Linked DNA regions of Homo sapiens. The protein of the gene in region 1 interacts with the protein of each later gene in a biochemical or structural test. Each region holds a gene or a part of one and is shown on either strand. Other genes may lie near its edges.

What was found.
Region 2: the proteins of ITGA5 (region 1) and TIMP2 form a complex in vitro, tested with the Homo sapiens proteins (one study listed by BioGRID).
Region 3: the proteins of ITGA5 (region 1) and LGALS3BP form a complex in vitro, tested with the Homo sapiens proteins (one study listed by BioGRID).

Annotation. Positions count from the first base shown.
Region 1 is NC_000012.12:54,402,184-54,409,291, forward strand, and holds part of ITGA5 (integrin alpha-5 precursor), read right to left. Parts: coding exon 7,049-7,108; intron 6,772-7,048; coding exon 6,710-6,771; intron 6,619-6,709; coding exon 6,573-6,618; intron 6,053-6,572; coding exon 5,927-6,052; intron 5,694-5,926; coding exon 5,649-5,693; intron 5,510-5,648; coding exon 5,466-5,509; intron 5,324-5,465; exon of another isoform or gene 5,214-5,323; intron 3,744-5,213; coding exon 3,687-3,743; intron 3,534-3,686; coding exon 3,481-3,533; intron 3,192-3,480; coding exon 2,983-3,191; intron 2,712-2,982; coding exon 2,520-2,711; intron 2,391-2,519; exon of another isoform or gene 2,315-2,390; intron 2,293-2,314; coding exon 2,247-2,292; intron 2,064-2,246; coding exon 1,962-2,063; intron 1,784-1,961; coding exon 1,728-1,783; intron 1,597-1,727; coding exon 1,442-1,596; intron 1,142-1,441; coding exon 1,004-1,141; intron 868-1,003; coding exon 800-867; intron 148-799; coding exon 1-147.
Region 2 is NC_000017.11:78,873,304-78,880,411, forward strand, and holds part of TIMP2 (metalloproteinase inhibitor 2 precursor), read right to left. Parts: intron 617-7,108; coding exon 516-616; intron 1-515. UniProt on the Homo sapiens protein: Complexes with metalloproteinases (such as collagenases) and irreversibly inactivates them by binding to their catalytic zinc cofactor. Known to act on MMP-1, MMP-2, MMP-3, MMP-7, MMP-8, MMP-9, MMP-10, MMP-13, MMP-14, MMP-15, MMP-16 and MMP-19.
Region 3 is NC_000017.11:78,970,733-78,977,009, reverse strand, and holds the end of LGALS3BP (galectin-3-binding protein precursor), read left to right. Parts: intron 1-853; coding exon 854-1,045; intron 1,046-2,190; coding exon 2,191-2,322; intron 2,323-3,787; coding exon 3,788-4,040; intron 4,041-4,305; coding exon 4,306-5,434; 3' UTR 5,435-5,755; downstream 5,756-6,277.

The DNA.
Region 1 (7,108 bases):
GGGTGTCTGACGAGTCCTGAGTACTCAGCCTCTGGAGGGGCGGTGACCCGAAGCTCAGCCTCATAGGCGCCACCCTCACCCACATTCTGGGCATGGAAAGTGAGGTTCAGGGCATTCTTGTCACCCAGGTACACATGGTTCTGCTCCCTGGAAGGGACACAGAGGGTAAGGGACATTGGTGAATTAATCCTCAAACCAGGACAAAGGACCATTATAAGAGTAGTAATACGAGGCCGGGTGTGGTGGCTCACACCTGTAATCCCAGCACTTTGGGAGGCTGAGGCGGGTGGATCACGAGGTCAGGAGTTCAAGACAAGCCTGGCCAAGATGATGAAACCCTGTCTCTACTAAAAATAATAATAAAAAAATTAGCCCGGCATGGTGGCAGGCACCTGTAATCCCAGCTACTTGGGACGCTGAGGCAGAGAATCGCTTGAACCTGGGAGGCGGAGGTTGCAGTGAGCCGAGATTGCGCCACTGCACTCCAGCCTGGGTGACAAGGGCATGACTCCGTCTCAAAAAAAAAAAAAGAGTAATAATAAAGTAACAATAGACACTGCTTACTGAGTTCTAACTCTATGGCAGGCACTAGGCTAGATTTTTTATGTAGATTATTTCATTTAATCTTTCCAAAAAGTCTGAGAAATAAATGCTACTATTCCCACTATACAGACAAAGGAGTTAAAGCTCAGAGCAGCTCAGCAACTTCCCAAGGCGACACAGCTAGTATGTCCCTAGCTGATTTTTTCAGGTGCCAGGTGCACCTGGAGCTCCCTAGCTTACCGTCAGCCCTACTTACCCAAACACTTCCAGCTGCAGGTCAGGCACACAGATGTTGTCTTCTCCACAGTCCAGCAAGATCTGAGCCTGGGGAGCAGGGCAGCCTTGAGAGGGGAAGTTTAGACCCATTCCTGGGCTGTAGGCTCTTCTCTTTCCATGGCCCTGCCCCCCCAATACCCAGGCCTCTGTCTTCCCAGGTCCCTTCTCCCTGCCCTGTCCTCACCTTGTCCTCTATCCGGCTCTTGCTCTGATAATGTAGGGCTGGCCTGAGGCCGTGGCTGTCCACTGGGGCTTGGGGGTCCAAGGAGAAGTTGAGAGCGATGTGAATCGGCGAGAGTTTGTCTCGAAATTCTGACTCGTTCTGGGGCCAGAGGAGAGAGTTCACGGAGTCAGGGGACTCTGGAGACTTAGTGGCCCTGCTCCTCAGCCTCTCTCATCTCCCTTTGTCTGCTTAGGGCCCAATTCCGACCATCCTCATTGTTTCAGAGGCCCTGGCAGCCTGCTTCCCAGCTCCTCTGACAGAAGGTCTCCCTTTCTCAGCCCCTACAAGAGTCCCAAGCCCTTCACTGGAGTCCCCCAGTCTTTTTCCCTTCAGGAGGTGCCCTCAGTTCTGTGTGGCCACCCTCCCTGGCCAGTCCACACCCCGCCCTCTGGGCCATACCCTGAGGTAGATCTTCATCTCTCTGCAATCCTCTCGAGCCCCATTCTGGATGAGCAGGGTCTGGGTCAGGGTTGCCTGCCTGGAGGCCAGGAACAGTGCCCGCCGTACCCCTCCCTTCTGCTTCTGCCAGTCCAGCTGAAGTTCCACTGTGAAACCTGAAGCCAGGGACATATAAAGGGAAACTGCCTGTCTTTCCTCATCTTTTCAGAGAGAAGAAATGTCCCCAGGTCCCCAGTCCCTTCATTCTCTGTCCTAGGGCCTGAGAGATCCAGGCAGTCTCCCTCACCAATGGAGTCAGCAACGTGTTTTCCAGAAGCATTGAGGCAGAAGCTAAGGTTGATGCTGGAGAGAGACCAAGAAGAAAGCTGGTGAATCCAACTGGAACAGACATCCTATCCTCTACCTATCTCCCAGCCAGACCCAGACTAGGACACCACCATTTTCCCCTTTTTAAGGCAGACTTGGTGCCCCTGCCCACTCCCAGGCTCAGGTCTCTGCAATTTCCTGGGCACCAGCTCACCAGGCCACAGGGTTCCCCTCTAAGCTGCAGCTCCGCTCCTCTGGGTTGAACATGGCGGGGAAGATGGTGAGGGAGGCACTAGCGGACACGATGGGGCGGCCCCTGCCAAGAGTGAATGTGGGGTCAATAGAATTAGGACTCCTCTGTAACCTGGACACAGGAAACTGATGCCCAAGCGCCAGAATGTGTGTCCTCTGCATTGATTTTCCCAACCTCAGCTCTGTTGAGAAATTTCCAGTTCCAGTCCACCCAGGTTGTCCCCTCATCTCCCTTTGGAGCTCATACCTGTATACCACAGCCTTGTCCACACCAAAGGACCCCACAATCAGATCTGTAAGAAGTCAAGAAATCACCTCTTACAGCAAGCCCCAGATCAGGATCCTTTCTTCCTAACCCCTCCTGGTTTCAACGCTCAGGGAGGTTGAAGTGAGAAGACAGCGCCCTCTGTTGGAATTAGCCAGAACTGCACCCAGGAACTTAAGGAAAGGTGCAGAAGAGAGAGTAGGGGTCAGTGACCAGGGAATTTTAAGGTGAAAAGGGGCCTCAGGCACAACTCACCAGGATATCCATTGCCATCCAGGTCTCGGCCTCCTCGAAGGGCAGAGCCAAAGAAGTCTGGGGTGTGGCTGGCTGCCCACAGGGGCTGCAGAACCTGGGAAGGCTTAGAGCCCAGCCCTCCTGGGCCCCCAGGAAATACAAACACTACTCCCTGCTGGGTCTCCCCACCAAAGGGAGCCCCGATGGCCACATCTGGAAGACACAGAACACACACTAGTCAGCAGGCCAGGAATCCATGGGCTCTAATCTCTACTACCAGACCCCAGGACCTAGGATCCTATTTTTTCCCATCTGTCAGTCCCTATATTCTAATCTTCAAATCCCAAGACCCAGACAGTGGGATTTTAACCCCTCGGGAAGTCGTGGAGGTCTGGGTATCTTAGCTGACAGATGCCCTCTCCCCAAATCCCTTCTGACTTGGGCCCCTGCCTCCTCTTTCACTCTCTGAGCCCATGGTACTCACCATTGTAGCCATCCTGGTCCAGGTCCCCCAGGGGGGTCAAGGAGCTGCCAAATCGGCCAAACTCATCATGGCCAGTGAGGGTAAGGGTGGGCGTGGGCTCTATGCCGGCTGGGTGCTGCAGGTAGACGTAGACCCTGCCCACCTCCTGAGGCCGCCCGTCAGGGGTCCGATCCATGAGCAGGGGTGCCCCCACCAGCAAGTCATCCAGCCTGAGGGGAAGGGCAAACCCAGGCATCTCGATACCCTGTCTTGCCACCCCACCCCAATCCTAGTGCTAGAAATCCCGGACACTCTGAATTCCATCACGTCAGAAGACCTGAGGTCTCTGATCATCAGCTCTCAGCTCTTTCCTTGTCCCTGAGCAAGGGGAATGCAGGTATGAGCGAGAGTCTAGAGAAAAAGCCCTGGAGAAACTCTCCTTGCATTTTCTGTCCCATTCCCACTCTTCCCTCTTGGTTCTGGGAGGGTATCACAGTGCGCTCATTTCCCACCACTCACCCGTCCCCATTGACGTCTGTGGCGGCCACTGCATAGCCAAAGTAGGAGGCCATCTGGGGAGGACAAAGGGGCAGCGCTGGGTCAGAACTAGAAGGTTCAATCCACAGGATCAAGAGGGGCTGGGAAGTTGGGCTGACATTATTAGGTCAGGGCTGGGGCTTCGTTGACAGAGGCCAAGCTGGGGTGGGGTTGAGGGGTATCCTTACCTGTTCCCCTGAGAAGTTGTAGAGGGATCGAATGTCTGAGCCATTAAGGATGGTGACCTGGGAGATGAAGAGATAGGCCCATTGGTCCTGGACTCCCAGAATATCCCATGGTTAAAGAACAGATGTGTACAGGACACCCAGGGGCAGGCATTCCTTAGAGACGCAGACCACTGTCCCTAGCTCCCTCTTCAGCTTTGCCCTCATATTCCCACCTCTATGCCAGGTAGTTCCACCCTATGTCTGCTTCACTATTTTTCTCCCTATCAATCACCAACCACTGACAGATTTTGTATTTATCTGTTCGTTGTCCCTCTCTACCCACTAGAATGTAAGATCAATAGGGGCAGGAACTTGATTTTGTTCTTTGCTTTCTCCTCAGAACCTAAAGTCATGCTTGGTGAGTAGTAGGCACTCAATAATAATTATGACTGAATGTGTGCTGGTGCCTCAAACCCATCACGTTCAAAACCTAAGTCATCCTCATCCTCCAGTCCCCCGAACCACAAACACCATTTCTCCCCTATATTCCCTTAGTGACTGGCCCCACCAGGCCTCTTGAATCCTGGTGTGAGCCCTTTCCCAGGACTGCTGGACAGATGTCTTGACAATGTCCCTGCCTCCAGCTCTCCCAGCAGATCTAGGAGGCTACCTCTGGCTTGGAAATCCAGTGGCCCCCTGCAGTCACTGCCCAAAGTCTCAACTTCTTGGCTGGTCCTCCAAAGCTCTGGAGAATCTGGCCCTAACCTATCTGTTTTTGCTCAACCTTTCCATATTCTACTCATCCTCAATCAGCTCATGAGTCTGCTAAGTTGGGCTGAAATTGTTTCCTTTTCTTCCACCTCATTCATGCTCCTGCACAGGATGCCCTCCTGCCTCATCTCTGCTGAACCTTCATAGAACCTTCTCTCATCTGTCCTCTTCCTTTTTAAAAATTTAAAATTTTTATTTCCTGACTCCCCAAACTTGTTACCATCCTTTTCCTAGAAAGGAGATTATTCTTTCCCCTAAACTGCTATGCCACTGTATCCACTTTGCTGAAGTTTACCAAAATGCAGAAAGAATGCTGATTTTGGATTAAGAGAGACCTGATTTTAAACCTACTTACTAACTGGGTGATCTTAAGCAACTTACTTGGTCTCTTAGAACCTCAGTGTTCTCATATGCAAAATACAGATGATAATATCTACCCCATAGGCTTGTTGTGAAGAATAGAAATCATGAATAGATAGTGCCTGATGCACTGAGTAGAGAATGAATAGTTGCTCCACTTTAGATCATAATTGTATGTGTGTCTTATCTAACATACTTGATTAGAAGCATCTTATAAGATGGGGTATGATACCTTATTCATCTTATCTCTTACCTTGCCTTAATAAATGTTGTTAATTGAATGAAATCCGATGGCACTCTTATCTGTATCTTTTAAAAAGCACTTGTCCTGGTCTAATAATAACATCTGCCAGTTGTACATTGCCTAACAATTCACTGAGTACTTTCACATGCATTTTCTCATTTCATCCTTGCCAGAGCCTCGTGAGGTCAGAACGATTGTTATCCCAGTATACAGAGAAGAAGAAGGCTCAGAGAGGTTCAGCAGGAAGCAGAGTATGAATAAAGAGCAGAATGATTCTGCCAGAGTAAGTGCCAGAACTTGAATGCCAGTCTGCCTCCAGAGCCCATGTTCTGATCCACCTTTTTGAGCCCTTGCAAACTGCCATGCACGGTTCTTTGTGATTAGGCAGGGGAGGAGAGGAAGTGAGGGGTCAGGCTGGGTCTTACATAGCCGTAAGTGAGGTTCCCTTTGGGCACACCAGCAACAAAGTCTGCAAAGAGAAGAGAAAGTTGTGACCTAAGGGTGGGGAAAGGGAAGCAGATAATGGTAAGTGGCCAAGTTCATGGGCTCTCTGGCCCTGTGCCTCTAACCATCCCCCTCCCTTGGCCCCAGCCTGGGGACACACTCACCTTCTGTGTCATCACCACTGAATTCACCAACAGCCACAGAGTATCCTGGGGGACAGGGTGGGTGGATGTTAGGATTCCTGCTTTGAGGACCCCTCTGCTCTGGCCTATCCACCAATCCCTTCCCCACCCCTACTGGGCCTTCATAGTCAGCAGGCACATGACAAGTATGGCAGGGGTGCTGGGGATGCCTGAGTAGGAGAGGGGAGGCGAGGGGGTGAGTGGGGACAGGAGCACTTGAGGTTCTCCCTCTGCCATCCCTTCCCCACTTGCTTGCTCACCTAGGTAGCTGTCATCATAGATGGAACTGGCCTGGCGAGTCTGCAGCTGCCCCTGAACCAGGTTGATCAGGTACTCGGGGTAATAAGATTCTGCAATCTGCTCCTGAGTGGCAGACAGGATCTGGCCTGGAGAGAGTATGAAGAGGGAGTAGATGGAGAGGAAGTGGCAGAGGGGGCTTGGGACTCTGGGGGCTGACTGGGTAGTATTTCAGAAGTCTGGTTCAAGAAAGGGAAGCATGGGGAGGGTGGTGGCATGTAAGCTTCAGGAAAGGAAGAGGAGAATTGGGAGTAGGGTGGGAGGCTATGTGCCAGGGGACTTAAAGAATGGCAGAAACAGGCAGGGCGCGGCGGCTCATGCCTATAATCCCAGCACTTTGAGAGGCCAAGAGGGGTGGATCACGAGGTCAGGAGTCCAAGACCAGCCTGGCCAAGATGGTGAAACCCCTTCTCTACTAAAATTACAAAAATTAGCCAGGCGCGGTGGCAGGCGCCTGTAATCCCAGCTACTTGGGAGGCTGAGGCAGGAGAATCGCTTGAACCTGGGCAGCAGAGGTTGTGCCACTGCACTCCAGCCTGGGTGACAGAGTGAGACTTCGTCTCAAAAAAAAAAAAAAAAAAAAAAAAGAATGGCAGAGACAGGACTTACCTTGCCAGAAATAGCTTCCTGGTCCACCTAAAACCACACGGCCAGTCTGTGGGTGAAAGGAGGGGAGTCCAACATCTGGTCCCAATCCCCCCATGTCCACCACCCACGGCCCCTTCTCTCCCAGACCACTCTCTCACCTTGGTGAACTCGGCACTGAAGCCTCCTTGGCAGTAACCCTGTCCTGCTGCCCAGCTGAAATCTGTGAGGGGAGAAGGTGGTGAAAATGAGCCCTGCATAGATGGGTCATCCAGGAAAGAAGAGAGGGCATAGGGAAGGAGGTGGGAGAGAGAACCAGAGAAAGGGCCTTCCTGGACCAGACAGTAAGCATAAAGGCTAACGAACTGGGTTAGCCTTTATCTTAAGCAACCTAGAACCTCATGGGGGCACATGGTAGGTGCGAGTCAACCCTAAGTATGTGAGACACTTCAAGTATATGAGAAGGCAGACATGGGGCACAGGCCCCCTCTTGCCCCTACCTGAGCGGCAGGGTGCATACTCCAGAATTCGGGTGAAGTTATCTGTGGAGAGGTAGCAGG
Region 2 (7,108 bases), on another chromosome or scaffold:
TTTTTTTTTTTTTTTTTTAATACAAGCTCTCACTCTGTCACCCAGGCTGGAATACAGTGGTGAGATGTCTCACTGCAACCTCTGCCTCCTGGGCTTAAGCGATTCTCCCACCTCAGCCTCCCGAATAGCTGGGACCACAGGTGGGCGCTACCATGCCTGGCTGGTTTTTTGTAGAGATGGATTTTCACCATGTTGCCCAGACTGGTCTTGAACTCCTGAGCTCAAGTGATCCGCCCACCTCGGCCTCCCGAAGTGCTGGGATTACAGGTGTGAGCCGCAACGCCCGGACAGGTTTCTGAAGGAATTGAATTTGTGGGGAGCATGTCATCTCCACACAACTTTTCAGGCATTCGAGGATTAAGGGAAATCGGATCTATTTGCAGCTTGATGACCTCATCCTCTGCTCTAGTCCACAGGTGGCCAGATCGTGTTCCAGGGACCCAGGCTCTCTGCCAACCCCAACACCCCACAGCTGTGCCCACAGTGCAGCCCGGGATGCCGGCAGCCACTATTACCTTTATCTGCTTGATCTCATACTGGATCCTCTTGATAGGGTTGCCATAAATGTCGTTTCCAGAGTCCACTTCCTTCTCACTGACCGCTTTGGCCCTGATCACTGCAAAACACAAGACACAGAGGTGAGGAGAGTTCCTGAAACACGCTCCTGGGGCTAAGGAGAGGGATAAGACGTCCAGGCCTGCGGGAGGTGCTGGGGGGTTACAGACAGCAGCAAGGTGCGAGACGGGCAAGGGGCATGGTGATCCCAGCCCCCGGCATGGCGTCTCCTCCTCCAGGCTGAGAGATGATGCCCAGCCTCCTCCTCCTCCTTCCACGATTCTTCAACAAGAATCCCTTCTTTGTTGACAGGGGCCCAAGCCAGAAGCCCAGAGTCCCTTGTGACCAAGGCAGTTTCTGTAACAGTGGGAGGCAGTCATTGATTTGACTGAAGCTCATCTGTTGATATCATGCTTGAGTGCTTTTGGCTTTTTTTTTCCTTCTCTCCAGTGGGTACTCACTGGTGGCTGGGGCAAGCAGGTACCCCATGGAACTGACCCACAATCCCACACATTCCGCGAAGGATGGGACATTTCCCCACCCTCCAGCCACGGCCTATTGGAAACAAGCTTTTCTGGGCTGAGGGCAGAGGGGGAGTTATCCACCTTAAAGGGGCCTTAAACGTACCCGGCATATTTAGCTTTGGGGGTCTTACATCTGGAAAGGTCTATCCAGCTCTTCTCATCTTTCCTGACCTGGAAAATGTTCTATGAGTAATTTTTGTTGTTGTTGTTATTGAGATGGAGTCTCGCGCTGTTGCCCAGGCTGGAGTGCAGTGGCACCGTTTTGGCTCACTGCAACCTCTATCTCCCAGGTTCAAGTGATTCTCCTGCCTCAGCCTCTCAAGTAGCTGGGATTACAGGCGTCTGTCACCACGCCCGGTTAATTTTTTTTTTTTTTCAGACGGAGTCTCACTCTGTCGTCCAGGCTAGAGTGCAGTGGCATGATCTTGGCTCACTGCAACTTCTGCCTCCTGGGTTCAAGAAATTCTCCTGCCTCAGCTTCTCAAGTAGCTCTGATTATAGGCAGCTGCCACCACACCCAGCTAATTTTTGTATTTTTAGTAGAGAAAGCGTTTCGCCATGTTGGCCAGGCTGGTCTTGAGCTCCTGACCTCAGGTGATCCACCTGCCTCAGCCTCCCAAAGTGCTGGGATTATAGGCATGAGCTACAGTGCCCAACCTTAATTTTTGTATTTTTAGTAGAGACAGGGTTTCATCATGTTGGCCAGGCTGTTCTCGAACTCCTGACTTCAAATGATCCACCTGCTTCGGCCTCCCAAAGTGCTGAGATTACAGGCGTGAGCCACTGCGCCCAGCCTGGGTGATTCTTTACAGTAACACAGAGTCTATCAGGGGCACAACAGGGGCAGGGGCAGGAAGTTTCACCCAAAGGAGACATCGGCAGGCACAGCTGGCAGACCCAAGGGACAGATGCTGAGGAAGGACAAACAGAAGGAAAGAGGATCCCAACTAAGCCCCAACCAAACAGAAAGGAGTTGGGGAAGAGGCTGGGCTGGGGCAATTCCAGAATATTCTGGAGCCTGAGGTTGCTGACAGGCCATGCAACACAGGGCTTTCTCCTAGCAATTAAGCCAGGATTCTGTTCCACTCCTGGTAACCTGAGGACAAGCAGATCAGTAGTTCATGCTGTCACTTGGGCAGGGTTGGGTAGAGCCCTCCCTTTCTTAATTTCAAGGCCATTAGTTGGTGACATGGTCTGTTTTAATGGCTTTAAAAGCTTTGCCCTCCCAAACTCAGCTCTTCAGGGTCACTCTGGGTAAGTGTTATGTTACGGTGGATATGAGCAAAACAGAGAGGTAAGGAGCAGACCACGCCAGGCTCCAGGCAGCCTCCTAGCCCCAGCCCCAGCCCCACCCCACGTGGTCGGCTCAAATCTCTTAGAACCCCTTAGGCAGGGCTGTCTCTTCCCACAGGGGCAAGGAGGCTCAGGCGTGTGGGTGCTCCATCTGTGTCCATCCCCCTGGGCCCCACCAATGCTCTCTGGATCCCAGGCTGGCATCAGAGTCCCACACCACAGCCCCACTGCCTCGCCTGGGCACAAACCCCTTTCTTCTTTCTTCTTCTGTTGGAGCTGAGTCATGACTGGCCAAGGCCACAGGTTCCTGTTTCCCAGGCTAATCCATGCCTCATCCTGAAAAGCCACATCTAGGAAATGTCTCCCGGCAGGCCACTCCAGAACAGACGGCTTTGCCCTGACGGCCCCCTATTTCCAGTGCCCTCCTAACCATCCTCTCATCCACCGCAACCAGCTGTCTTTTTTTATTCACGTTCGTTTCTGCTCAAACATCATCCTTGGCTGCCCCCTGCCCTCCCCTAAAATATGAGCGCCTTTGCAACCTGAAGTCAGCCAGGGGCCTCAGCTGCTGTGCCCAACACCCCCCACCCATGCTCCCACTATTCTACCACTTCATAATACTTGTCTGCCCTGAACACGCCCAGGTGCATCCACACCTCTGAACAGACAAGTTTCTTTCTTTCTTTTTTTTTTAGACAGAGTCTTGCTCTGTCATCCCCACCCCTGCTAGGCTGGAGTGCAGTGGCGCAATCTCAGCCATCTCCCAGGTTCAAATGACTCTCCTGCCTTAGCTTCCCAGGTAGCTGGGATTACAGGTGGGCACCACCATGCCTGGCTAATTACCATATATATTTTTTTGAGACGGAGTTTCACTTTTGTCACCCAGGCTGGAGTGCAATGGCTTGATCTCAGCTCACTGCAACCTCCACCTCCCAGGTTCAAGCAATTCTCCTGCCTCAGCCTCCTGAGTAGCTGGGGTTACAGGTAACTGCCACCTTGCCAGGCTAATTTTTTTTTTTTTTGGTATTTTTAGTAGAGACAGGGTTTTAGCATGTTGGCCAGGCTGGTCTCGAACTCCTGACCTCAAGTGATCCGCCCACTTTGGCCTCCCAAAGTGCTGGGATTACAGGTGTGAGCCACCACACCCAGCCTGAACAGGCAAGTTTCTTCCGCCCCAAATGCCATCTCCCCTCTCTGCCTGGAGAACTTTTCTTCATTCTTCAAGACCCAGCTAAAATAGCCCTTTTCTGTCTTCCTCTGGGAAATCCTGTCCTTCTGCAGCACTTGGTATATTCCCCATCTCTTTTCCATCCTGCTGTCAGTTCCTGCACACCTGTCTGCTCAGGGCCCTGGGAGGTCCTAACAGGTTGAGGCTAGATTCTGACTGCAGAACAGTTGGTGCTCACTAACTCTTTGCCAGATGGAGCTGAGATGACGCTGACAACTTTGGGCTGGTGGCCCAGGTGCAGTTTGTCCTTGGCTCTCTTGCTCCCTGCCTAATCTATATACCTTACGACAATGCTGCACCAAAAATGTTTATGCAAATTAGTCAATGTGCCAGATTAACTTGGTCAAAGTTTGCTCTTCATGTAGCAGAGTCACCAGCTCACAAGCAAACCAGGGCCAGGCACGGTGGCTCACTCCTATAATCCCAGCACTTCGGGAGGCCGAGGCGGGCGGATCACTTGAGGTCAGGAGTTTGAGACCAGCCTAGCCAACATGGTGAAACCCCATCTCTACAAAAAATACAAAAATCCCAGCCACTTGGGAGGCTGAGGCAGGAGAATCGCTTGAACCCAGGAGGTGAAAGTTGCAGTGAGCTGAGATCATGCCACTGCACTCCAGCCTGGGCAACAGAGTGAGACTCCGTCTTTTAAAAAAAGAAAAGAAAGAAAAGGAAAAAAAGCAAGCCAGCAGAATCCAAAGGAATCAACAGTTCCAGTAGGAGCAGCAAGCCGGCCTTTATTACAGTCTGCTGAATTCTGTATGTTATTTTGGAAATTTCTGGAGCTGCTTTTCTTTTCTTTCTTTCTTTTTTTTTTTTTTGAGATGGAGTCTAGCTCTGTCATCCAGGCTGGAGTGCAATGGTGCAATCTTGGCCCACTGCAACCTCCGCCTCCTGGGTTCAAGCAATTCTCCTGCCTCAGCCTCCCAAGTAGCTGGGATTACAGGCACGCGCCACCATGCCCGGCTAATTTTTTGTATTTATTTTAGTAGAGACGGGGTTTCACCATGCTGGCCAGGATGGTCTTGAACTCCTGACCTCGTGATCCGCCTGCCTCGGCCTCCCAACGTGCTGGGATTACAGGCATGAGCTACCGCGCCCGGCCTTGGAGCTGCCTTTCAATGGTCCACTAAGCCGCACAATGCTTAACGCACAATAGGCACTCAACAAGCATGTCACTGGAGTTCAGAAAATAAGCAAAGATTACTTCAAAACGGCCAAAATGTTGCATCCTACCATGGGCATTGAGGTTCACATGCTGTTCTCTTACAAAAACGCCTAAGGCTCCCAGGTGGCAGCTGGGCACTTATTTGAAGGAGGCAGCAAGAGACAGAGATCCTGCATTCACCCCTGGATGGCTGCGTGATCTTTGAGAAGCTCCTTGACTTCACTGAGCCACAGTTGTTCACACCTAAGACAGAGACGATGACAACAGTCTTGACACTTCACAAGGTCGTGGTGACTGTTAGAGGGGCTGGTGTGGAGGCTGCGGTGCCCGGGAACTAATGCGTGTACAGTTCAGGACCACGAGCATCGCATAGACAAGCAGGGCGAATTCTCCCGCTCCCGTGGGTGAGGGATTGGGACGGTGGCATCATGCCACTCAGGTACACAGACCCGGTCCTGGTCAGCAGGCCACAGACTCTCGATTTGATGCAGCTTCCCAGCGTGCTAGCTTTGCCTGGGGGCTGCAGATTACACACTTTCCTTCTTTAAAGTGTCAGAAAAGAGGAGGCTGGTCAAATCAAGGGTCCAGGGTAGCCACGTGGGGTTAGGACTAGAAAGTGAACTGGCGAGGAGGCCGCCAGATGCCTGCAGGGAAGTGGGGGTGAGGGGCAGGGAAGTGGGGGTGAGGGGCCTGGAGGAGCAGAGCCTGAGGGCATCTCCATCTCCCCTGGGCTGCTTTAGTCTGCCCCTGGGGAACAGAATTCAGATTCTTCAGGGTCCCTTTAAATTGGGGGTGGGCACCTCCTCCCCCACTTTGCAAAATGAGAAATTACATGAAAGAAGGAAAATGGGAATCAAGAGAGGCAAAGAAGGACCAGTTCCACGGCAACCTTCCCCAAAGCACCAGCACGCCGCAGACATGAAGGAGAGGGGCCAGCTGACAGCTCTGATCGGTGCACACCAGTTGGCATAGCGGGATCTGCACCGCTGACCTGCTCAGAGCAGCGGGTACCTGTCGGGGGTTGTTGCCCAGAGGTGACAGCAGGTGAAGAGAGGGTACAGGGTGAATCCTGCATACAGCAGGCCTTGCCTGGGAGGAGCATCCAATCCAGGCAAGATGACAGACGATGGATAGGAACACAGAGAAGGAGAGTTTCCAATGCCCAGTGGTGGACAGAGGAGGAGGGAGAGAGAGCTCTCCGGAATACATTTCCATGCCAATGGCAATGGTCCGCACTCTGAGCTCCAGGATGGACCACCAGTTCTGTAGGGGAAAGCAGGCCACTTCAAAAGAGGGAGGGCCTCTCCGAGTCCCAGGCCATGTGAAGAACAGGGCTGGGGAAAGCGAAGAGACATAAGGAATCTGGGAAGAAATGAAAATTGTGGCACAGACACGTTTACTGAACACCTACTGGGTGCTGGGCCTGGTGTTAGGCACTGGGGTGGGTGTCAGCCCATCTCCTGTCCATGCCCCCGAGAGGGGCTGCTCTGCTCCTCTGCCCCTTCCCCAAGGAGCCAGAGGCAGCTGCGAGAGGGGGAGTCTTTATAAAGACTCTCGTTCTAACTGCCCTGAGCCCAGAAACCACGGCCTCTCCCTGGGCGTCTCAGATTTCGTTTTTCCTTCTTTCCCTTCTGCTGTGAACACAACATCTGGGTTTGAGATCAAGGGTGATACACTGGCTGATGAATTCACCGCCAGATGCCGGCTACTGGAATGTACAACCGTCGGCTGAATTCAAAGCACACGCAACTGCAGGGTCCCCACCCCCACCCCTCCAGCCCAGGACACCATATGATGTCACTTCCCCCCTGCAAAAACAATCCCGAGCGCACCCGCCAGAGTGGGGACGGAAAAGAACCGGGTGGGCGGAAAACCAAGGTCGCGGGAGACGATCCAAAGAGGATGGGCTACGGTCAGACTTCGACAGTCACAACCGCCCCTGGAAAACCATCAGAGGCCGGACCGGCTGCTGCTGCTCTCGGAGGGGAGCAGACAGTGAAGGGGGCTTGCTGGAGAACCTGGTGTCACCAGCATGTGCCAGGGCCAAGGGCTGGCCGGAGGGGCGGCACTCTCCACAGACTCCAACCACGCCAGCCCCAGGCAGAGACGCCACGGCTTCTGTGGCACGGTCCTCCCTTGTTCTCTCTCCTCGGTGTCCCCTCTGCTGCCATCAACACGTGGGTCCTGCGTCCTCACGTCCCCTTCATACACCCACCAACATCTTTCCAATCCTCCTGTGTCCACAGAAGTACTATGGAAGTTCCTGCGGAAAATAAGAACAAGCCATGCCCACAATTGGGGGAGGGAGACAGACCCCAAAAGAAAATTGCCTCGAAAGGCCGG
Region 3 (6,277 bases), on another chromosome or scaffold:
TGCTTGAAGCACCAGGTATCCCCAGTGATGATGACTTGGAGGTTCCCGGGGGCTCACCTGGGTTCAGGTGAGATGCAGGTTATAGAGAGGACACTAGGGAATCCTCCATTCCGTCCAGAGGGAACCAGAGGGGCTGATCAAACCAGCAGTCACAGGGGCCGTTGTGAGGTCAGTGGCCTTGGACGCAGGTCAGTCTTCCAGAGGGTCCTGGCTGCTTTTCCTCACATTCTTTACACTGTGAGCCCCTGGAAGCTCATGCTCATCCTGGGGGCCCCATGGAAGCCAGATGTACCCCCGACTGGATTCAGGCACCCAGCTCCTGCCCGGCTCTGTCAGCTCCTGTAGGGGCTGGAGTGTTGGTGGACTGAGTCCCAGAAGGACATGTGGGGCGGGGGAATCCCATTATCTGCCCTGGAAACATTCTGCCTGTGCTCCCAGGGGTCCCTAGGCCTGCTGCCCCCATAGGCCAGCACCCCCAAACTGCAGACACCCTCTGCAGGGCGGGTCAGCACGGGGCCTCCGTTCCCCTCCTATCCTTCCCTCAGGGTCTTGCCACCTCCACTCCCAGTGCTGGAGAACTCAGGGCTTCTCTGCCCCTGTTCTGTCTATGGAGTGAAGGGCTGAGACCCCTAAAACAAGGAAAGGCGAGTTTGGCCTCCTTGCGGGGTAGGGGGGGCTGTATGTATCTTCCACTCCTCCCTCATGGAGGTGCCCCTCATGGAGAGGCCAGGGGACCTTGAAGCCCTGAAATACAAGCTCAGCAGGGGAGACCCAGGACAGCATATGGGGCCTGGAGGTGTGGGCGGTGGGTGCTGCAGGCCCCAGCCTCGCCCTCGCTGGTCTCTGCCTGCAGGCGTGAACGATGGTGACATGCGGCTGGCCGATGGGGGCGCCACCAACCAGGGCCGCGTGGAGATCTTCTACAGAGGCCAGTGGGGCACTGTGTGTGACAACCTGTGGGACCTGACTGATGCCAGCGTCGTCTGCCGGGCCCTGGGCTTCGAGAACGCCACCCAGGCTCTGGGCAGAGCTGCCTTCGGGCAAGGTAGGGCCTGCTGTCCCCTTCCACTGAGGCTGAGACCCACAGCACAGCCAGCTCCCAGGAGGGGCAAATCCCCTAAGACGAAACAGTCAGGTTTCAAAGACATGCAAATTGGATTCCTATTAATTTAGCAAGAGCAAACACTTTTTTTTTTTTTTTTTTTTTTTTTTTTTTTTGAGATGGAGTCTCGCTCTGTTGCCCAGGCTGGAGTGCAGTGGCACAATCTCGGCTCACTGCAACCTCCGCCTCCTGAGTTCAAGTGATTCTCCTGTCTCAGCCTTCTGAGTAGCTGGGATTACAGGTACCTGCCACCATGCCCGGCTGATTTTTGTATTTTTTAGTAGAGACAGAGTTTCACCATGTTGGCCAGGCTGGTTTTTAAACTTCCGGTGTCAAGTGATCCGCCCGCCTCAGCCTCCCAAAGTGCTGGGATTACCACACCCGGCCTATGAGCAAACATTTTCAATGGTGCTGAAGGCCTGCGGATCAAGTTCTGATGGGACTGCTCCACCCACACTTGGCCAGTGATGGTGGCGGGTGCTTGGGCAGGTTCAAGAGCTCGGCTGGGCTCGTTCCCTCCGGCCCAGAAACTCCACTCCAGGGAGTTTATCCCATTGAAACAATTTCTCCTCAAAAGAAAAGTCTGCAGGAAGATTTCCACTGACACAGCAGTTGCGATTCTGGAAAAAAAAGAAACAATCCATAAACTATTTAGCAGCAGGGATAGTCACACAATTACAGTATGTGAACCTGATGTTGCAGGGATAGTCACACAATTACAATATGTGAACCTGATGTTGCAGGGATAGTCACACAATTACAGTATGTGAACCTGATGTTGCAGGGATAGTCACACAATTACAGTATGTGAAACTGATGTTGCAGGGATAGTCACACAATTACTATACATGAATGTGATGTCGCTGAAGCAGCCGGTAAGCTTTATAAGCATGAAGGCTAAGTTTATGGCCTGACATTGCAATCACAAATCCAGCCCATGCTGGAATATCCTCCGTGGTTCGCTGGTGAAGGACCTGTAAGCAGATGGACCCACACGGCCGGGGCGGAGAACAAAGGGCTGAGTCGCGCTGTGGGACTCCTGGGTGCAGTCGTCACGCCCCCAGCCCTGCCATCTGCTGTGTCCACAGGATCAGGCCCCATCATGCTGGATGAGGTCCAGTGCACGGGAACCGAGGCCTCACTGGCCGACTGCAAGTCCCTGGGCTGGCTGAAGAGCAACTGCAGGCACGAGAGAGACGCTGGTGTGGTCTGCACCAATGGTGAGCGGGGGCGCACCTCCCTGCGGAGGCCCCAGTGTGCCCTGGGGTCCCGTGGCCCCTGCCCCTCCCAGCACCACCCCCCCACGCACATGAAGCACACAAAGGTTCCTTCCACTACCGCCTGCCCACTCCGCATGGAGAGGCCCAGACGTCCCAAGAGCCCACCAGCTCCCAGTCCCACAGTCCCAGACTCCTCCCCAGCCCCTTCTGGAGAAACACCCAGAACCACCAAGTCTCCATGCAGAACCCGAGTGTGGGGCAGTGAGCCACAGTTTCAGTGAGCATGACACCTGGCTCCAGCCTGACCTGAAATGCCAGCGTCCGCTCAGAAATACACTTCACAGCACGCGACAGGCTCAAGCCCGTCCTGGCGGAGGGAGTCCCGGCTACTCGCAGCCTCAGCCTGCTTCCCCCAACCTGGCCCAGTTTGGAGGGAACCCAGGCTGCTCTGCAGGTTGGAGCCTCTGGATCTGAGTTTCTTGTTTTTCTTTCATGCCGAGGTGGCTCTTCCTGGGCTTGCACGTGACAACCTGGGCATTTCCTGCCCACTGCCCTTTGCCAGGAGTTGGAGGCCCCTAAGGCAGGACGGGTCGAATCCCAGGGAGCCCCTGTGCCCACATGGGATGGACAAGTGGCTGGAGCTGAGCCTGGACTCACAGTGGGGGAAGCCCAGGAGACGCCATGGGGCTGTCGGGGGCCAGGGGAGGCGGCGGGGAGCACACGGGGCCATGGGCGCACGGCCAAAGCTCCTGGGGCAGGAGAGCTGTGGTAAGGCGTGCAGGTGGGAGGGAGCTGGGGGTCCTGCGGTGGCTCAGGTTTTAGGAGGCCCAGGGCAAGCCCACCTGGTTGAAAGGTCACAGTTACTTCAAAACTACTATATTTGTGGCGAAGAAAAACCTATGGGATTTCATTTTGAGTTAGGCTTTGAGAGGGGCTCAAAGAAGGGGAGAGGGTGCACCACACTGACCCCCGAGCCGGGAGCCTCCCATGACTTCTGCAGGCCTTCTCCCCGACAGGAAGCTGCTCGAGGACCCCCGGAGTTCTAAAATGGGGTTGCCACAGGACCCTAACTTTTCAGGCCATCTAAGCAGGCAGTGGTTTTGGTGTTAGTGGTGATTGGTGACCAAGGCTGGGGAGTGGGGGCTCCGGAGTCAGTACCACCAAGTCTCCATGCGGAGCTGCTGCCTGAGTCGGGGGAGCAGCACAGAGCAGAGGGCCTAAAGCGGGGGCCTGGACAGGCTTGGCCAGGTCCTAGCTGCTCTTGTTCCCCAGGGCTGGAAGGGGCGGGGCCTCAGGGTCCAGGAATCCGACACTTCCGGTCTCTCTTGTCCCTCGTCTTCCCAGGAGCCTTCCAGAGTGAATGAGGCAGCCACAAATCCCTCACTTTCAGATGAAGACACTGACCCCAGAGAGTGGCAGTGCCCCGGCTCCTAACGCAGCCCACTTCCCTCCCGCCCCTTCTTAGAAACCAGGAGCACCCACACCCTGGACCTCTCCAGGGAGCTCTCGGAGGCCCTTGGCCAGATCTTTGACAGCCAGCGGGGCTGCGACCTGTCCATCAGCGTGAATGTGCAGGGCGAGGACGCCCTGGGCTTCTGTGGCCACACGGTCATCCTGACTGCCAACCTGGAGGCCCAGGCCCTGTGGAAGGAGCCGGGCAGCAATGTCACCATGAGTGTGGATGCTGAGTGTGTGCCCATGGTCAGGGACCTTCTCAGGTGAGCCGTCTCGTCCTCAGGCTCTGGGGCCGCCAGGGGCTTTGTCCTCCTCCCCTCTTCAAAAGCACAGCCCCCCACACACACACCTGCACATACTCATGCATGCACATGTACACACGCAGTCACACATGCACTCACGCAGTTGCACACACACGCATGCTCACTCCCACACTGTGTGCACTCAGGTGGCTGTGTTGGACAGTTGGGCCCAGGGCTCCCCTGCTGTCCTGTGGGGCCGGCATCTGCTCTCCTTCTTTCTCCCCAGGTACTTCTACTCCCGAAGGATTGACATCACCCTGTCGTCAGTCAAGTGCTTCCACAAGCTGGCCTCTGCCTATGGGGCCAGGCAGCTGCAGGGCTACTGCGCAAGCCTCTTTGCCATCCTCCTCCCCCAGGACCCCTCGTTCCAGATGCCCCTGGACCTGTATGCCTATGCAGTGGCCACAGGGGACGCCCTGCTGGAGAAGCTCTGCCTACAGTTCCTGGCCTGGAACTTCGAGGCCTTGACGCAGGCCGAGGCCTGGCCCAGTGTCCCCACAGACCTGCTCCAACTGCTGCTGCCCAGGAGCGACCTGGCGGTGCCCAGCGAGCTGGCCCTACTGAAGGCCGTGGACACCTGGAGCTGGGGGGAGCGTGCCTCCCATGAGGAGGTGGAGGGCTTGGTGGAGAAGATCCGCTTCCCCATGATGCTCCCTGAGGAGCTCTTTGAGCTGCAGTTCAACCTGTCCCTGTACTGGAGCCACGAGGCCCTGTTCCAGAAGAAGACTCTGCAGGCCCTGGAATTCCACACTGTGCCCTTCCAGTTGCTGGCCCGGTACAAAGGCCTGAACCTCACCGAGGATACCTACAAGCCCCGGATTTACACCTCGCCCACCTGGAGTGCCTTTGTGACAGACAGTTCCTGGAGTGCACGGAAGTCACAACTGGTCTATCAGTCCAGACGGGGGCCTTTGGTCAAATATTCTTCTGATTACTTCCAAGCCCCCTCTGACTACAGATACTACCCCTACCAGTCCTTCCAGACTCCACAACACCCCAGCTTCCTCTTCCAGGACAAGAGGGTGTCCTGGTCCCTGGTCTACCTCCCCACCATCCAGAGCTGCTGGAACTACGGCTTCTCCTGCTCCTCGGACGAGCTCCCTGTCCTGGGCCTCACCAAGTCTGGCGGCTCAGATCGCACCATTGCCTACGAAAACAAAGCCCTGATGCTCTGCGAAGGGCTCTTCGTGGCAGACGTCACCGATTTCGAGGGCTGGAAGGCTGCGATTCCCAGTGCCCTGGACACCAACAGCTCGAAGAGCACCTCCTCCTTCCCCTGCCCGGCAGGGCACTTCAACGGCTTCCGCACGGTCATCCGCCCCTTCTACCTGACCAACTCCTCAGGTGTGGACTAGACGGCGTGGCCCAAGGGTGGTGAGAACCGGAGAACCCCAGGACGCCCTCACTGCAGGCTCCCCTCCTCGGCTTCCTTCCTCTCTGCAATGACCTTCAACAACCGGCCACCAGATGTCGCCCTACTCACCTGAGCGCTCAGCTTCAAGAAATTACTGGAAGGCTTCCACTAGGGTCCACCAGGAGTTCTCCCACCACCTCACCAGTTTCCAGGTGGTAAGCACCAGGACGCCCTCGAGGTTGCTCTGGGATCCCCCCACAGCCCCTGGTCAGTCTGCCCTTGTCACTGGTCTGAGGTCATTAAAATTACATTGAGGTTCCTACATTTGTTTGTACAGAAAGTGTTGTTGGGTCCACACCGTGTTTAGACATCAGGTGTGCCAGGCTCTGGGGGACAGGTCATGAGGCAGAGTCCCTGTCCTTGTGAAGCTACAGGCTAACGGGGAAGACAGGGAACAGGAAGCACACCTCCCAGCCCGGAGCAATGACACAGTGGGACACGAGCAGGAGGGTGCGTGCCACTGCATGCGTGCACGTGGGTGTGTGATTGCATGTGCACAGGCGTGTGTGTGCTCATGAAAGTCTGGCTGTGACGGGTGCCCTCACCCCTTATCTGGGTAGGTGTGCTCTTAAAATTTTATTTACTTTTGAGACAGAATCTTGTTCTGTCGCCCAGGCTGGAGCTCAGTGGTGTGATCTTGGCTCACTGCAACCTCCACCTCCCGGTTTCAAGTGCTTCTCCCGCCTCAGCCTCCTGAGTAGCTGGGACTACAGGCACCTGCCATCGTACCTGGCTAACTTTTGTATTTTTGTAGAGACAGGGTTTCACCATGTGGGCCAGGCTG